2 separate regions of the Homo sapiens genome follow, and region 2 is linked to region 1. Evidence: fine-mapped expression QTL. Tissue or cell type: whole blood. Region 1 holds a variant in brackets; the other region holds the start of a gene. All regions are shown on one strand. Distances are between the middles of the regions.

What was found. PIP is the estimated chance that this variant, and not a neighbour inherited with it, causes the effect.
Region 2: it holds the start of SH3BP5-AS1, and the variant in region 1 is fine-mapped to the expression of SH3BP5-AS1 in whole blood (TOPMed, PIP above 0.99).

The regions. Positions count from the first base shown.
Region 1 is chr3:15,180,512-15,188,616 of GRCh38, reverse strand. It overlaps the pseudogene COL6A4P1. Among named protein-coding and RNA genes, the nearest start is that of CAPN7, 22 kb to the left of the region's middle. The variant T/A (reference allele first, on the strand shown) is at 3,740.
Region 2 is chr3:15,250,652-15,258,756 of GRCh38, reverse strand. It overlaps SH3BP5-AS1 (SH3BP5 antisense RNA 1), which reads right to left and starts at 4,573. Exons shown (of 3, transcript NR_046084.1): 1 at 1,151-4,573; 2 at 1-123. CAPN7 (calpain 7) reads right to left here. Exons shown (of 21, transcript NM_014296.3): 20 at 7,734-7,826; 21 at 5,841-7,641. The coding sequence ends at 7,497. It overlaps SH3BP5 (SH3 domain binding protein 5), which reads left to right. Exons shown (of 9, transcript NM_004844.5): 8 at 1,644-1,904; 9 at 2,454-4,404. The coding sequence ends at 2,671.

The DNA.
Region 1 (8,105 bases):
TGCAGTTTCTTCCTAGTCTCGATGGTCTTTACATTTTGGCATGATTTTGCAGTGGCTGGTACCGGTTGTTCCTTTCCATGTTTAGTGCTTCCTTCAGGAGCTCTTGTAAGGCAGGCCTGGTGGTGACAAAATCTCTCAGCATTTGCTTGTCTGTAAAGGATTTTATTTCTCCTTCACTTATGAAGCTTAGTTTGGCTGGATATGAAATTCTGGGTTGAAAATTCTTTTCTTTAAGAATGTTGAATATTGGCCCCCACTCTCTTCTGGCTTGTAGGGTTTCTGCTGAGAGATCCGCTGTTAGTCTGATGGGCTTCCCTTTGAGGGTAACCCGACCTTTCTCTCTGGCTGCCCTTAACATTTTTTCCTTCATTTCAACTTTGGTGAATCTGACAATTATGTGTCTTGGAGTTGCTCTTCTCGAGGAGTATCTTTGTGGCGTTCTCTGTATTTCCTGAATCTGAAGGTTGGCCTGCCTTGCTAGATTGGGGAAGTTCTCCTGGATGATATCCTGCAAAGTGTTTTCCAACTTGGTTCCATTCTCCCCATCACTTTCAGGTACACCAATCAGACGTAGATTTGGTCTTTTCACATAGTCCCATATTTCTTGGAGGCTTTGCTCATTTCTTTTTATTCTTTTTTCTCTAGACTTCCCTTCTCACTTCATTTCATTCATTTCATCTTCCATCGCTGATACCCTTTCTTCCAGTTGATCGCATCGGCTCCTGAGGCTTCTGCATTCTTCACGTAGTTCTCGAGCCTTGGTTTTCAGCTCCATCAGCTCCTTTAAGCACTTCTCTGTATTGGTTATTCTAGTTATACATTCTTCTAAATTTTTTTCAAAGTTTTCAACTTCTTTGCCTTTGGTTTGAATGTTCTCCCGTAGCTCAGAGTAATTTGATCGTCTGAAGCCTTCTTCTCTCAGCTCGTCAAAGTCATTCTCCATCCAGCTTTGTTCCGTTGCTGGTGAGGAACTGCATTCCTTTGGAGGAGGAGAGGCGCTCTGCTTTTTAGAGTTTCCAGTTATTCTGTTCTGTTTTTTCCCCATCTTTGTGGTTTTATCTACTTTTGGTCTTTGATGATGGTGATGTACAGATGGGTTTTTGGTGTGGATGTCCTTTCTGTTTGTTAGTTTTCCTTCTAACAGACAGGACCCTCAGCTGCAGGTCTGTTGGAGTACCCGACCGTGTGAGGTGTCAGTCTGCCCCTGCTGGGGAGTGCCTCCCAGTTAGGCTGCTCGGGGGTCAGGGGTCAGGGACCCACTTGAGGAGGCAGTCTGCCCGTTCTCAGATCTCCAGCTGCGTGCTAGGAGAACCACTGCTCTCTTCAAAGCTGTCAGACAGGGACATTTAAGTCTGCAGAGGTTACTGCTGTCTTTTTGTTTGTCTGTGCCCTGCCCCCAGAGGTGGAGCCTACAGAGGCAGGCAGGCCTCCTTGAGCTGTGGTGGGCTCCACCCAGTTCGAGCTTTCCGGCTGCTTTGTTTACCTAAGCAAGCCTGGGCAATGGCGGGCGCCCCTCCCCCAGCCTCGCTGCCGCCTTGCAGTTTGATCTCAGACTGCTGTGCTAGCAATCAGCGAGACTCCGTGGGCGTAGGACCCTCCGAGCCAGGTGCGGGATATAATCTCGTGGTGCGCCGTTTTTTAAGCCCGTCGGAAAAGCGCAGTATTCGGGTGGGAGTGACCCGATTTTCCAGGTGCCGTCCGTCACCCCTTTCTTTGACTCAGAAAAGGAACTCCCTGACCCCTTGCGCTTCCCAAGTGAGGCAATGCCTCGCCCTGCTTGGGCTCACGCATGGTGCGCACACCCACTGACCTGCGCCCACTGTCTGACACTCCTAGTGAGATAAACCCGGTACCTCAGATGGAAATGCAGAAATCACCCATCTTCTGCGTCGCTCACGCTGGGAGCTGTAGACCGGGGCTGTTCCTATTCGGCCATCTTGGCTCCTCCCTCCGTAAGTTGCATTTTTTTAGGCATTTATCCATTTCCTCTAGGTTATCCAATTTGTTGCCATATAATTATTCATAATAGTTCTTTTTCATTTTTTTCATTTCTGAAGCATCTCTTGTAATGTCACCACTTTCATTTCTCATTTTATTTATTTGGTCTTTTCTCTTATTTTCTTAGTGTAGTGTTCCAAAATTTTAAGTACCTCACAAATTAATTATGTACCAATCTACTAATTTCCACAGCTGATGGGAGTATCATAACCATCAACAGCCATTTATTGCTTTGCACAGAGCTCCGCTGAACTCTGGCATTTTAATCCTTACCCTTCTCTGGAGGAAAGCTCCAAGATTCTGCATCTTGTTATTTTTTTCTGAGACTACTGACACATTAATTGTCATTGAAATGTTTGACATAGCCTCCCTTAAATATTTTACAACAAAGTTATAGATTTATCTGAGCCATTGTAAGATTTGTGAATGAGCACAGAAAACAAATGTTAATGTTTATGCAATAAATTAAGGCTAAACTTTAGTTTTTTATTTTTATTTTTTTTACTGTCAAACATGTTATGTAGAGTTTAACGTGAAGTGTACAGAAGAATCTATTCACGTTTCTCAATTGTTTGCCTTCTGGAGCTTCCTGCCCAGATGTGGAACACTGTAAGACTATCTCATTAGAAAGCCAAAAATCCAGTTATTGTAATAACCCTGTTAAAGTGAACAGAAAGAAAAGAGAGAGCACAGCTCTGGATTTCAGAGAATAAATAGAAAGAAAATGGAAAAAATGTGTTAAATTAATTTTGCATATTTGCATTGAGTATTTCATCCAAATATTTTGAAGCTTCTGCTTACCTCAGTAATTTAAAAAACATTTTAAAATCAATAATCTCTTCTCTTTTCTCACTTACTTGAAAATAGACACTTGATTTTCTCCATAGGGAATTAAAGAGGCTATTGAAAGCAAGTGGGGCAGACACTCGCTTGAGCAGGAACCACTGCATGCTAAATGCATGGGAGACTAGTTTCTTTTCTTTTCCTTTTCTTTTCTTTTCTTTTCTTTTCTTTTCCTTTCCTTTCTTTCTCTCTCTCTTTCTCTCTTTCTCCCTTCCCCTTCCCCTTCCCCTTCCCTTCCCTCTCTGTCACCCAGGCTGGAGTGCAGTGGCATGATCATGGCTTGTTGCAGCCTCGACTTCTGGACTCAGTCAATTCTCCCACCTTTGCCTCCTGAGAAGCTGGGACAACAGGCACACACCACCACACCAGGCTAATTTTTATTTTTATTTTTGTAGAGACAGGGTCTCTTTATTTTTCCCAGGCTGGTTTCCAGCTCCTGGGCTCAGGCACTCCTCCTGCCTTGGTCTCCCAAAGTGCTAGGATTATAGTCATGAGCCACTATGCCCGGCCTAAAGAATGGTTTTTGAAATATGGTTCCTCGGACCAGCTCAGCAGGCAGATTCTAAGGGTTCACACTACACTTACAAAATCAGAAACTCTGGAGGTAGGGGCCAACAAACTGGGCTTTAACAGGTCCTCTGGGTAACTCTGATGCAATGCTGAAGTTTAAGAGTCACTGGCATAGGACATTAGAGATGGAATCTTCGTATTTTATAGTTGAGCATTCCACAGAGGAAGAACAAAAACCTTGAAGGAGACTGGTATATAAAGCATTGCTACTTTAATTAAATGAAGTTAAGGAGGTTTGTTTTTGAAGACTGAGGAATTCTGCTCGGGTCCCCTCTTCTATCCCACCTTTTAAGTTCAGTCATTTCAGAAAAGATCTCTATGAGACTTA[T/A]CAAGCCTTAAGAGCTTGGACAGCACAGGTGCATGAGCTCTAATGAAGGCCTAACCACATCCCCAGCACTCCTAAACCTGAGCTCCTGAATCTGTGGGCAGGCTGTGTTTGGAGTGTCTAGTACCTCTCCAGTGTCCTTGCATGTACATGCTGTTCTTCTTCCTGGAACTCCCTTTCTTCACATTCTCACTTGCAAATTTCTACTCATCCTTCAAGTCTTCACTCTGGAATCATCTGCTCTGTAAACTCTTCACCCAGGTGAAGACAGGTGCTCACACACTGTGTTCCTCAGCACTTTGTATAGCTTTCTATTTTATTTTGCTTATCCCACAATATTACAATTTATCCATCTCTCTCTCCACTAGTTCTCTGAGAAAAAGAATGGTTTCTTTTAGTCTGTTATTTCTAGGGCCTGAAGTTTAGTCTGGCAAACAATAAACACTCAGTAAAAAGTTGCAAATGTATTGCAATGCTTTATTCCTCTCTCTATGAATCATTATAATTTTGCCAAGCATTTGAGAGTAAGTTGCTGATAGTAAGGTCCTTTGCTCCACAATGCATCAGTGTGTATTTTTAAATAAGAAGGCCATTCTCTTACATGACTACAACACAATAATCAAAGTTATTAAATTTAACATTGATACCGTATTTTCTTTTTTTGAGACAGGGTCTCACTCTGTTGCTCAGGCTGGAGTGCAGTGGCACGATTACTGCAGCCTCAACCTCCTGGGCTCAAGCGATTCTCTCACCTCAGCCTCCCGAGTAGCTGGGACTACAGGCGTGCACCATCATGGCTAGCTAATATTTTTTGTATTTTTTTGTAGAAACCGGGTTTCACCATGACCTTGATACAGTATTATTATATAATATTCTGTCCATATTAACATTTTGTCTACTGTCTCATTCAATGGCTTTTATAGCATTTTTCCCCCCAAACCAGGATCATGAATTGCCTTTATATGTTATGTCTCTTTGGACTCCTATAATCTGAATCAATTCCTTTGCTTTGTCTTTCATGATATGAATATTTTTGAGACGCACAGGCCAGTTATTTTTTAGACTGTCCTCAAGTTTTGGTTTATGTGATTGTTTTCTCGTTATCAGATTTAGGTCATGGATTTTAAGGAGAAATACTATATAAGTGATGTTAAGTTTTCTCATGCATAATATCAGGAGGTGATGATGTTGGTTTATCCTGTTATTATTGATGTAATTGATCACTTGGTTAAGTCATGTCCATCAGGCTTCTCCATCGTAATGGTACTTTTTTGCCCTTTGTAATTTCTAAGTAATTTTTCAGAAGATACTTTGAAAATATATTCATATTCTGTTGTGTAACAAACTTTTACCCAGTGGTTTTAGCAATCTCTGATGATTCTTCCTGAGTCAATTGTTACTATGGTAGTTGCAAAGTAATTTTTAAACTGAATAAATGAATCTAAAAAATAGACGGTTTTAGTTGGTTAACTATTTGAGCAATATATTTTTGAGAGAAATCTTTTCTATTGCAAAACTATTAAAGTTATTTGCAGAAAGAATCAGTATTCTATGCTATCCCTATCTAATTCCATTTCATTTAATGGCTTTATTTCTTGCCTCCATGAGGAGTCCCATGTGTTCAGATGCAAAATCTCTTCAGCAGCTTAAGATATAAACATCTTAATGAAATAGTACATATCACGTAGATATTAAATCTCTAATACATAGATACTTAACTCTTCATTGATATAACACAGACTTGCCCAGCTGTAAAATGTTTACAACCGTTTATAAATGTTTATCATTTTGACTTTCCCACTAGAGTTTCATAAACAGCTCTAGTGCTTTATTTACAATTAGCTAAAAATGCTCATTTTTTATGACTAATCGCATGAATAGTAATAATTGGGACATAATGGAAAATGAAAATGTAGACATAATATCTATATTTAGGTTTTATACAGTAAAACCTTTACTTAAAGGTTTTGTTTTTTCCAATAACTTTATTAACCCAAGTGTTTCAAAATTGGAAGTGTAATATTTTATTGCAATGATGATGATGAGGATCATGTTGATGATCCATTAATTTATTTTGGATCATTTTTCACACCTTCAGACTCTCAAGCTCTTTACCCTCATACAGTTATTAATTCACTAGGGCAATCTATTCTTTAAGATTCATGCATTTTTTTTTTTACCCTTAGGTAAAAGTTTATTGAAGGATAGGATATCTAAAGTCTTAAAGTACCTTTCCTTTAGTTACTTATACACCTCCGGGAGGAGGCACTAGTGGGAAGTTATGTAGAAACTGAGGAACAGAGAAATCTAATTATAGCACATCTATTTCCTGGAAAAACACTGGACCAATTCCCTAGGGCATGTTTGTAATACAGTGGTCAATACAGTAGTTGTCTCAAATCAGAGCTAAGACCTCTAGACTCATCACATAAAACCTGAAAGTTGAAACAGCTTGCTCAAGTCTGCAGAGCAAATAGCCAAGCTCAAACCAGAATCAAGGCCTATGGGCTTCCTTTAAAGTCAAGACTTCTCCCAGTATTTTCTGTTGGTGTAAATAATAAAGTAAATAAAATAAATATGGTTATCTCAAATTTTTGAATCCCTCTTAAGGAGTAAGTTGAGCATGAACAGTCAAGATGTGTTTTTAGGGAGTGGGGGGTGGTTTTCACTTAACACTTTCTGGAAAGAGAAACGCAGCTGTTGGGTGTCTGCTATTCCTGGGTGTTGTGATGATCACTTCCACACAATATTCTATTTAAAGAACCCAAGACTAGGAAGTGATTTAGACATGCTAGAGATTCTTGCTTAAACTCTTTGGTTTGTTTAAGAATGTGCTTTAACTATTCACAATGGCAAAGACATGGAAGAATTCTTTTGAATTCTTTTGAATTACATATTGGGGCTCCAAGAAGGTTTATTTTATTTAACAAACACCTAAAGAGTGCCTTCTGTGTGCCAGGAATGGGTAAAGTGTTTTATAATAATGAACTCAATCCTGATAACACTATAAGGTAGGTGCTATTATTGCCCCTATTTTACAAATGGGGAAACCAAGGCAGAGAAAAGTGAAGCAATTTGCCTAAGATCCACTATTAGATAGTGGATCGAAGACTCAAGCCCAGGCAGTCTATCTCCAAGAGTCCTTGCTTTTTAACCACATACATTCTGCTGAAGGCAGCTGTGAGATTGGCTGGCCAAGAATATAAAGATGAGGTATTCCCTGTTCCACTTGGAACCTCTCATTCAATGGGATTATTATGTTCTTATTTTTAAACAAATGGACTTTCTTAGAGTAAAAAAAATAGAAATGGAATTGAGAGTAGACAATTTCCATGGACCCCTTTGGAAATGGATCTAAGCTTTGGGGAGGGAGGTCTGATGTTCTGCTTTTTTTTTTTTTTGAGAATGTATGAGGTATTTTCAGACTAGGCTTATTTGACCAGGCAGATGTGCTCCTGAGATACTTGAATATTTTAGCATACCACAACTGTTTATCAGGTTATTCCACTCTTGCATAAATATACAAACAAAATCATTCAGAAATGTTTATGACCCACCAAATGAATGCAGTGTGTGAAATGGAAGTTCTATGCCATGTCCTGTATGCTTTCTCCTTTTATAGCCACATCTGGACAACTTTAAATAGTGAAGTCTGAGGTGTACACTCTGGGTGTTTACAAAATTCTTCCCGAGTTGGATCAGCAAGACCATTTTCCTTGCACAATTGAAACAATGTGGGAACATTTCCCTCTTTATTTTGATAAAGCCTATGTTGATGTGGGGAAAGACATCCTTATGCTTTAAAAAAATCAACTTCATGAGGCATAATTTATAGTCAATGTGTTGGACACATTTTAAGTGCATGAAGGCACATTTTTTAATTACAAGGTTTCTTCTTTTCTCTAGGTCCACATCTAGAATGGAGACTTGGAAGATATTTTGGGGGATCATCCTCCTTGAAGCTGGTTTTGGCTTCAAGTCACAGAGGATTGGTAATACCTGGGTTTCTTTAAGCTGAAAACCATCTAGTGGTAGTGACCATCTTAAAAGGAAATATTACAGAAGCTTCAGAATTAATAAGAGGCAATCGATTCATTGAAGGAGAATTTAGTCAGAATCTGGAAGCTTATAGTGAATGGTGGGCACTTGTTTTTTCAGTACTTAACCCCAAATGACAAAAAAATAGATATTAAAAACTTCCATACTCTGAAATGTATTACTAGGTTCTCAAACGCTTTTGTAAACAGGAGTCTGTTCTGCATTCTGCCTTTTCTCTTCGGCAGAGCTGTTCTGAGGAGTAATTATCATCACAAGACGGATCGCTTCACTGAGTGCTAGTGACACATCTGCAATTTTTTGCAGTTATTTT
Region 2 (8,105 bases), 70 kb before region 1:
TCTGGCCATCAGTGAAAGGTCTCAGAGTTGGGCAGGCCTGAGGGCTATTTCTGGTGGGTTCCCATGTTTTATGGAACACTGTGTTCATTAAGAAGGTACTAAGTGTTCCTCAAAGTCAGGATTCTGTGGTCAAATAAATTGGGAAAATGTTACACCTTCACTCCTCTTTGAGAGTCAAAGTATACATTTGAACATTCAAGGCTGAGAAGTCCTGCAGGAAAGAAGAGCTGTAATCAGATTTGATTCAAAGCTACCTTTACATCATTACTAAGGCATGATGTGGGCAAGGGCCTAACTTTGTATTTCAGTTTCTTCACCTGTAAAATGGGGAGTATGACGCTATCTACTGTATACTATCCGTTGTGTAGGGTGGTGGTTCAGCTTACATGAATCAACCCCTGACACCCAAGAAGCACTCAGCAAATGGTGGCTCTTACTGACATCTGACCATAGAGACCTCTTTTCCCAGGGCCTCCCCCTGGAAAACTGATAGAAGTTTGACTTGGTTTCTGTCATGCTCATCAAGAAAACCCACCCAACGCTGTCTTTGCATACTTCCTTTCTTTTCCTTACCTGTGCAATAATCCCTGTCGGCTCTTTCCCAAGCTCCTTCCTCAGGAGTTAATTCCTTCAACAAATATTTAAGTACTAGGTTCAAGGTAAAGGAAAAGGAAACTATCATTTGAACAACTACTATGTATGAGGTACTTTAATATATACATCATCTCAAACCCTGCATGGAGAGGATCATGAAGCTTACAGAGGTAAAGTAACTTGACCAAGGTCACACAGCAAGTAGTGGAGTTAGGGATTCAATTCAGGTCTGAGCCCATTTTCTGTCCCCAACATTACAGTATTTATCATTTATAAGAAACCTTTATGGAATGCTACAAGGCTGTTTTTAAAGAGAAAGGGGGGGAAAAATGGAGTAGGAAAGTTCTAATAAGGAGTGGGATTGTGGGCAGGCTGAGGGAAAACCGCTAAAGGCCAAAGAGGCTTTGAAACCATGGGAATAACATGTGTCTGGGCCTTGTTACTTTGGTCTACCAAATAATGTGGCTACAGAGCATTGTAAAGGATTTCTGTTCTTTTGCAGCAAATGGTGATGTGGGTAGCCTTTGAGTGTGTTCTTTATGAGATCAGAAGTTACCTGGAGATAACAAAGGTCCCAACAGATGTTCCATGCTGGCCTGTTTCTTCTAGCAGCTCTTGCTTCTATTGCCCTAAGAAAGAAGCCTGAGTCCAGCTGGCTTTGTTTGGGATATGTTACAGAGGACTAGAACCTCTTCCTGTGCACATGAGGATGTATTTGGGGGACTGAGGTGGAGTAAAGGTCCTAATTTGTGGCTGAATTAATCTTCCATTTTTAGGTGGTGTCTGGTGACACTGATTTCTTGGCAGGGTTATAAGGTTATTGGAAGGGCGCTTAATATCCATGGGATCCTGCTGCCAGCTGCTTCCCTTCCAGCTGCTTTAGAGGCTGGTCATTCAGGCTTGGGAAGTCACATTCCTTCATTAGGCACTCACAGAGGTAGAGACTCTTTAGTCCCCCATGCTGTGTCTAGCTGCCTGCCAGCAGCAAGCACTTGTGGTGTTTGAGGAGGTGACAGAACCCATGTGACTGGTGTTCTCTCTCAACTTAGTGGCCTCGGAGGCCTTTGAAGATGACAGCTGTAGCAACTTTGTGTCTGAAGATGACTCGGAAACCCAGTCCGTGTCCAGCTTTAGTTCAGGACCAACAAGCCCGTCTGAGATGCCTGACCAGTTCCCTGCGGTTGTGAGGCCTGGCAGCCTGGATCTGCCCAGCCCTGTGTCCCTGTCAGAGTTTGGGATGATGTTCCCAGTGTTGGGCCCTCGAAGTGAATGCAGCGGGGCCTCCTCCCCTGAATGTGAAGTAGAACGAGGTGAGTAGCAGCCTTCTCACCCCGTCCCAGATGCCACACTGCCTCTGTAGCCTGACTGTTGTGCCATTCCATACCTCTGCCAGGTCTCAGGGCCCCCATGCTGCATTACCAGGTCTCTGTGGTTGTGCTGTCAGTATTGATCACTGAGGTTGTTTCCAAGTGCTGTTCTGGGGGGGCTCCTGGCTCCACTCAGCTTCTATAAAGTAGAGCTTAGGTCCTATGTCTCACATCAGAACAGTCTCCTTGGCAAGCACATAGTAGAGAGGTTTGTTTCTCAGCAATAAAGTGAATATGGCAAATTTCATCTCTATAGCTAAGGAATATATAAAACATCACAAGGAATAAAAGCAGTAAATGATTATGTACTGAGAACCTCTCTGATAGGCACGGTAGGTAACAGTGGGACTTCTACAGGGCTGAGTTAGCTGACTGGTTTGAGCTCAAGTGACTTAGAATTGTCAATACTCACTTTTGATAATCTTTGTATTTCTATAGGAGACAGGGCAGAATTGTCAATACTCACTTTTGATAATCCTTGTATTTCTATAGGAGACAGGGCAGAAGGGGCAGAGAATAAAACAAGTGACAAAGCCAACAACAACCGGGGCCTCAGCAGTAGCAGTGGCAGTGGTGGCAGCAGTAAGAGCCAAAGCAGCACCTCCCCTGAGGGCCAGGCCTTGGAGAACCGGATGAAGCAGCTCTCCCTACAGTGCTCAAAGGGAAGAGATGGAATTATTGCTGACATAAAAATGGTGCAGATTGGCTGATTCATCCTGGGCCCTGGCCGATGTGCATATCAACATTTATACATGGAACTGGAGAACATTGTGCCAATAATCATTTAATATATGCCAAATCTTACACGTCTACTCTAAACTGCTCTAATGAAGTTTCAGTGACCTTGAGGGCTAAAGATTGTTCTTCTGGGTAAGAGCTCTTGGGCTGGTTTTTCAGAGCAGAGTTCTTGTTGTGGGTAGACTGTGACTAGGTTCACAGCCTTTGTGGAACATTCCGTATAACGGCATTGTGGAAGCAATAACTAGTTCCTATGAAAGAACCAGAGCTGGGAAGATGGCTGGGAAGCCAGGCCAAAGTGGGGGCAACAGCTTGCTTCTCTTTCTCTTCTCACCCTCAGTTTGTATGGGAAAATGGAGATGTCCTCTCCACTTTATCCCACGATATCTAAATGAAAAAGAAAGAAAACCCACACACAAAGCAAAAACTCAAGTATTAAGAGCACATATTTTTGACCCAGTGGAGGCTTAAAAAAAAAAAAATCCAAGAACACAATTCATTTTCACCACCTCTGGTGTTCAGAGGGGGCTTTTAAAAAAGCGTGTATGCTGGGATACCCATTAAAACCATTTTCTAGAAGGCTACCATGAGCTGCACTTTTTGGGGTGGGAAAGGTGAATGCCAGTGGGGATGCGGGGGGATGAGGGTAGGAGGGACTTATAGAAGGGGATTTGTGGCTGTGGGGGAGAAGGTTCTACAGCATAAGCCTTATCCTGCCAGCCAAGGGGATTTATTCTAAGAGAAGTGCATGTGAAGAATGGTTGCCACTGTTATTAGATTGACAAGATGTTAATTTCTCTGTAGGTTGTAACTTTAAAAATAAATGAAATTATTTAAGGGTTATGCTGCACTAGTATTCCTTAGAGGAAACAGTTCTTTAAAGTTAGGAAAGGGAGTAGGCAGGCATGTGTTGGCAAAGGCTGTTAATAGTAGTTAAGTGTTAAGACTGCTTTTCTTTAACGTTTTCATGGTAATGCATATTTAGAGCACTGTATTTTTGTCTTGTTAAGAAAATTTAGCATTTCTAAAAGAAAAAAGCAACCCTCTTTCAAACTGTTAATTCTGTCACAGCCTGTATATTTTAGTCATTTGTAAATCTCTTCATACAATAGTGACTTCTTTTTTGACTGATACAGTATCTTAATTACAAGGTTATTTTGTACTTGTCTTAATACACTAAGTGTAATAAAAACGGCTTGAGAAAAGTTTCTCCTTTCTGTGACTTCAAATAAGAACTCCCAGTATTGCCTAAATCTTCTAGGCAACCCTTTTTCCATAAGGAAGAGCATGGAGTGCTGTGGTCACCAGTAATCATTTTCAATTAATTAAGGTCATGAACAGTAATAATTTAAGCCTTGTTTACCAAGGTTTGAATTCTACTTTTGCTGTTGCTAAAGCTGTGGGCAATGAGGAGACACAGTGGCAGATAAAGACGAGGTGGTGACGCTGGAGGAGTGGGCCTCGGCTGCACACTGCAGTCTCGAAGCTTAAGTGTTGCTGTCAGTCAGTTCTCATCCCCAGAGAATTATTTAATTAATTAACTGGGGGGGGTACACTGGGGCATTAGACTTTTAAAAGCTCCCCGAGGGAATTCAAATGTGCATTCAGAGTTGAGAATCAGATGGATTCTTTCTTTTGTGGAAATGTTTTATAATATTGGACTCTTAATCCGCATTTCATTATTAAAGCATGCTGTGGAGAAAAAGTTCTTGGTTGGCCAATCATGAGGTTTAAGTTTCAGAAATAACCCTTTGCAGTATCAAACAAGTGTTTTACCTAGTAGTTAATAAATATTTCATCTAGGAAAGTTCATAGAAGTCCCTTGTGCTATTTAAGAACATTAAACAGCCGGCTGGGCCCAAGGGCTCATGCCTGTAATCCCAGCACTTTGGGAGGCCAAGGCTGGTGGATCACTTGAGCCCAGGAGTTCGAGACCAGCCTGGGCAACATAGTGAAACCCAGTCTTTACCAAAAATACAAAAATTGGCCAGTCTTGTAATTTGGGTCTCAAGCAAGAACACTTAACAGCATACCTGAATTTGACTAGTGACCTTCAGGGTTCATTCAGTTCTCATAAAATCTCCTTACACCCTTTTACCTGTAGTAAAGACACTGAGACTTGCTTGACTTACCATTAGCAAAAACTTCCCTGCAATTGAGGCAATTCTTTTTCCTCCTAGAAGAAACACCATCTGGAAAATAGCCCAAGCTAGGATAAAGTTTTTACAGCAGAGTCAAGTTATACAGTCTAATAACTAGAAATTTCTAGGTACTTCTCGCAGAGAATGAAAGTGGGAAGGAGTTTTCTAACACTGGGGCTTTCTTTCCCTTGTCTTTACAAAAGACAAAGCCTAGGCAGTCAGTCAGTAGCACTAGAGTATTCCTTATGGGCATTAAGAATTTCTCTTGTTTCCTGCCTCAATCCCCCTTTCCCATCAGCCTACCACTTGCTTGTCTCCTACACCAGAAAAGGATGCAGACCACCTTTTGACCAGGGCTCCCTTCTCACACTATCACCTAGTCAAATTTCTAGTTTTACGTAGTCTGCCCCTACTGCTGTCACTGTGGCCTCTTTATCTCCACCACATCTGACATTTAATTATACTCTTCTGGGAATTCTGTTCACTGGGCTTCTTAATCCTCCCCCAACCCTCGTTTTCTTGTATCTCCTGTTAGTCTATGTATTTTTTTCTAAATTAGAAATACTTTCTAAAAAACTTCCCCCAAATCAGTTCTTAACCATCTTTAGTTCACGTGACTCTTGACTTTTTGGGTGATCTCACTTACTATACCACGTTGATTCCAGATCTGGATTTTCTGGGCAATTTAATGTGTCAAAACTTACCTTTCACTGAAGCTATGAGCATCTGTCCATGTGCTGAATTAGAAACTTGAGTCATCCTCTCTAACAATTCAACTGGTCTGTCTGTTATTTAGAACCTCCAAAAGGCCTGGATTGTTTTTCCTCCCTCTACAATGGGTCTAGATCTTGTCCCTCCCTCGACTAGACGGCCGTGACTGTGGGTGCCATTAGACACACACAGCAGCTCAATCAGGGCTCAGGGAAGAAGGCTTGTGAACCCTGGGCAAAATCTTTTAATCTCTTAGGCTTATTTCCTCAATTGTAAGAAGTACAAATAATAGTATCTATACTTTATTCAGCTATTGGGAAGATTAAAAAGAAAAATATACACATTGGGTACATAGTAAACACTCAATGGTCAGTAACCTGTCTTTTGAAGCTTTACCTTCAAGGTCCAAGTTAAAGTATCAATTCTTCAAATACAATTTTTTATATTGGTCCAGCCAAAATTAATCTTTCCCTTATTCATACACTGGTGGCATGTTTTTAGAGCTCTATTATAGAAATCAGTGCCTTTAAGTTGTTCATATATAGGTCTCTTCTAATAAATTTGATGGCAGGGATTAGGTTTTTAGTTTGCATCCTGTACAAGATCTTTACCACAACAGGTTCAAATCATGTGTTCATAATATAGTTCTTATGTTCTGGATTTTTTCTTTTTAAAAAGTAACAGAAAACTTGTTAAATTTGTCCACCTAAAATTAATAGGCTAAAACTGAAAGCATGAAGTATTTACCAAAGTGAAATCTCATTAGTGTAATAATCTACCACTACTCTGTTAAAGAACAGATTTTTGTTGAAGTATATATTTTCATGCAAATAATCTGTTCTCATTTACATGAAACACGACAGATGAAATCTTTCAATAAATCTAACTTAAACTATGCAATATCCGTAAGTATAAACATTTTATTTCAATTTAAGGTAGTAGCAATACAAAATAAGTTTTGATAATTATAAAGTAGAGACAATGAAAAATCCCACCCTATTTTTAGAATTTTAAAATATTGAGCATCATTCTGTCCTGATGGGTTTTTATGTAAAGTGGGAATTTACATGACACCAGTATCTTGGCAATTCACTTTTTTTGAATGCTACATATCCCAATCACCATATATTAAATTCTCTATTTTCTTCAAAGTGCTATTGCCACAAGAGACTGAACGATACAGCAATTTAAAAAAAGACCACACAAACTAAATTGTAATGTCTTCAATATCTCAATTACTGTTTTTTAAAAATAAAAACTGCAGTAGTGAATTTCTTTAAGTTCTTGCTACATGATTGAATGGGAGATAACCTCAACAATTTTCATTCTTAGGCATGAGCATCTTCATGCTAAGGTAGTCTATACTTAAAAGCTTTATTCTTTCATAACACCTGGGCAACAAATATTTTAAAATCATAAATAATGCAAAATTAAAATCAGTTATGGTGGCACAATTCATTTGGTAACTAGTTGCCCAAGATGTATAGTAGAATCAAGCAGGTTTAACTTCCACATGCTCTGCAAAAAAGGGAAACAATGGAAATATTTCGGTATATTAATCTAGCCCACTATTCCACTCAAGGAATCTATATCCTTTCTTTTTCTCATCTGGTCTCAGTTCCTTTATCCTCTTAGCAAAGGCATCTCACAGTGATGACTGAGTCTAATTTTAATCATATGCACTTTTTATACAAAATGGCCCCTAAAATGCAAGCCAACTCTATATACACAAAACCATGTAAACGGTACCTCTAGGTGATTTAGGTAATTCTGACTATATACAGTTCTTACCAAACACCCTGACAAGCACCAGATTCCACTGTAACACGTTTTTAGAGATTTAATTCCATTCTGATTGTTCTGCTTACTGTCCTGAAGATTTGCGTCCTTATTTGAAGAACTGATGTTTGGTAAGTATAAAAGCCAGTAACTTGAGATTTCTCCATCACTGAAGTTGTGTGATCTTGATGGGGATAATACTATTAAAGTCCAAGAAAAAAGGTCCTTCTTGTTTAGGCAAAAAGGTACTAGGAATGATATTGAAGATCCCAGAAGGTATATTTTCTAATTCCAGGTAGCAAAACCCACACCTATATTTAGAGAAAATGAGAATAAGGTTTATAGAAGATGATGCCACAAAAAGTAAAGTATAAAATAGATACAATAAAAATGCCAACATTACCTATAGTCACCACTAGATTTCCTCAGAAAGCCATGGGGACCAGGATCTCCTAGAGTAGAAACTGTTACAACCTCAAATCCAACGCTATATTGCCTAGCATTTAAAATGAACAGAATTACTGTATTAATATATATTCTCAAACGTGATTTAAAATAACTTTATCTGAAGTGCAGATGTCATACTAAGTTTATGTTTCTGAAGTTTCAGTAGAAACATACACACTCTATTTTTGATCATAACACACCATTTATATTTTTCAGTTGAAGCCTTAAAGATTAACACCAGATTAAACTTACTTTAAGAGAGACTGTATTTTTACCATGGGCTCCCCGGGAAATATTTTATTTTTTTTGAGACAGAGTCTCACTCTGC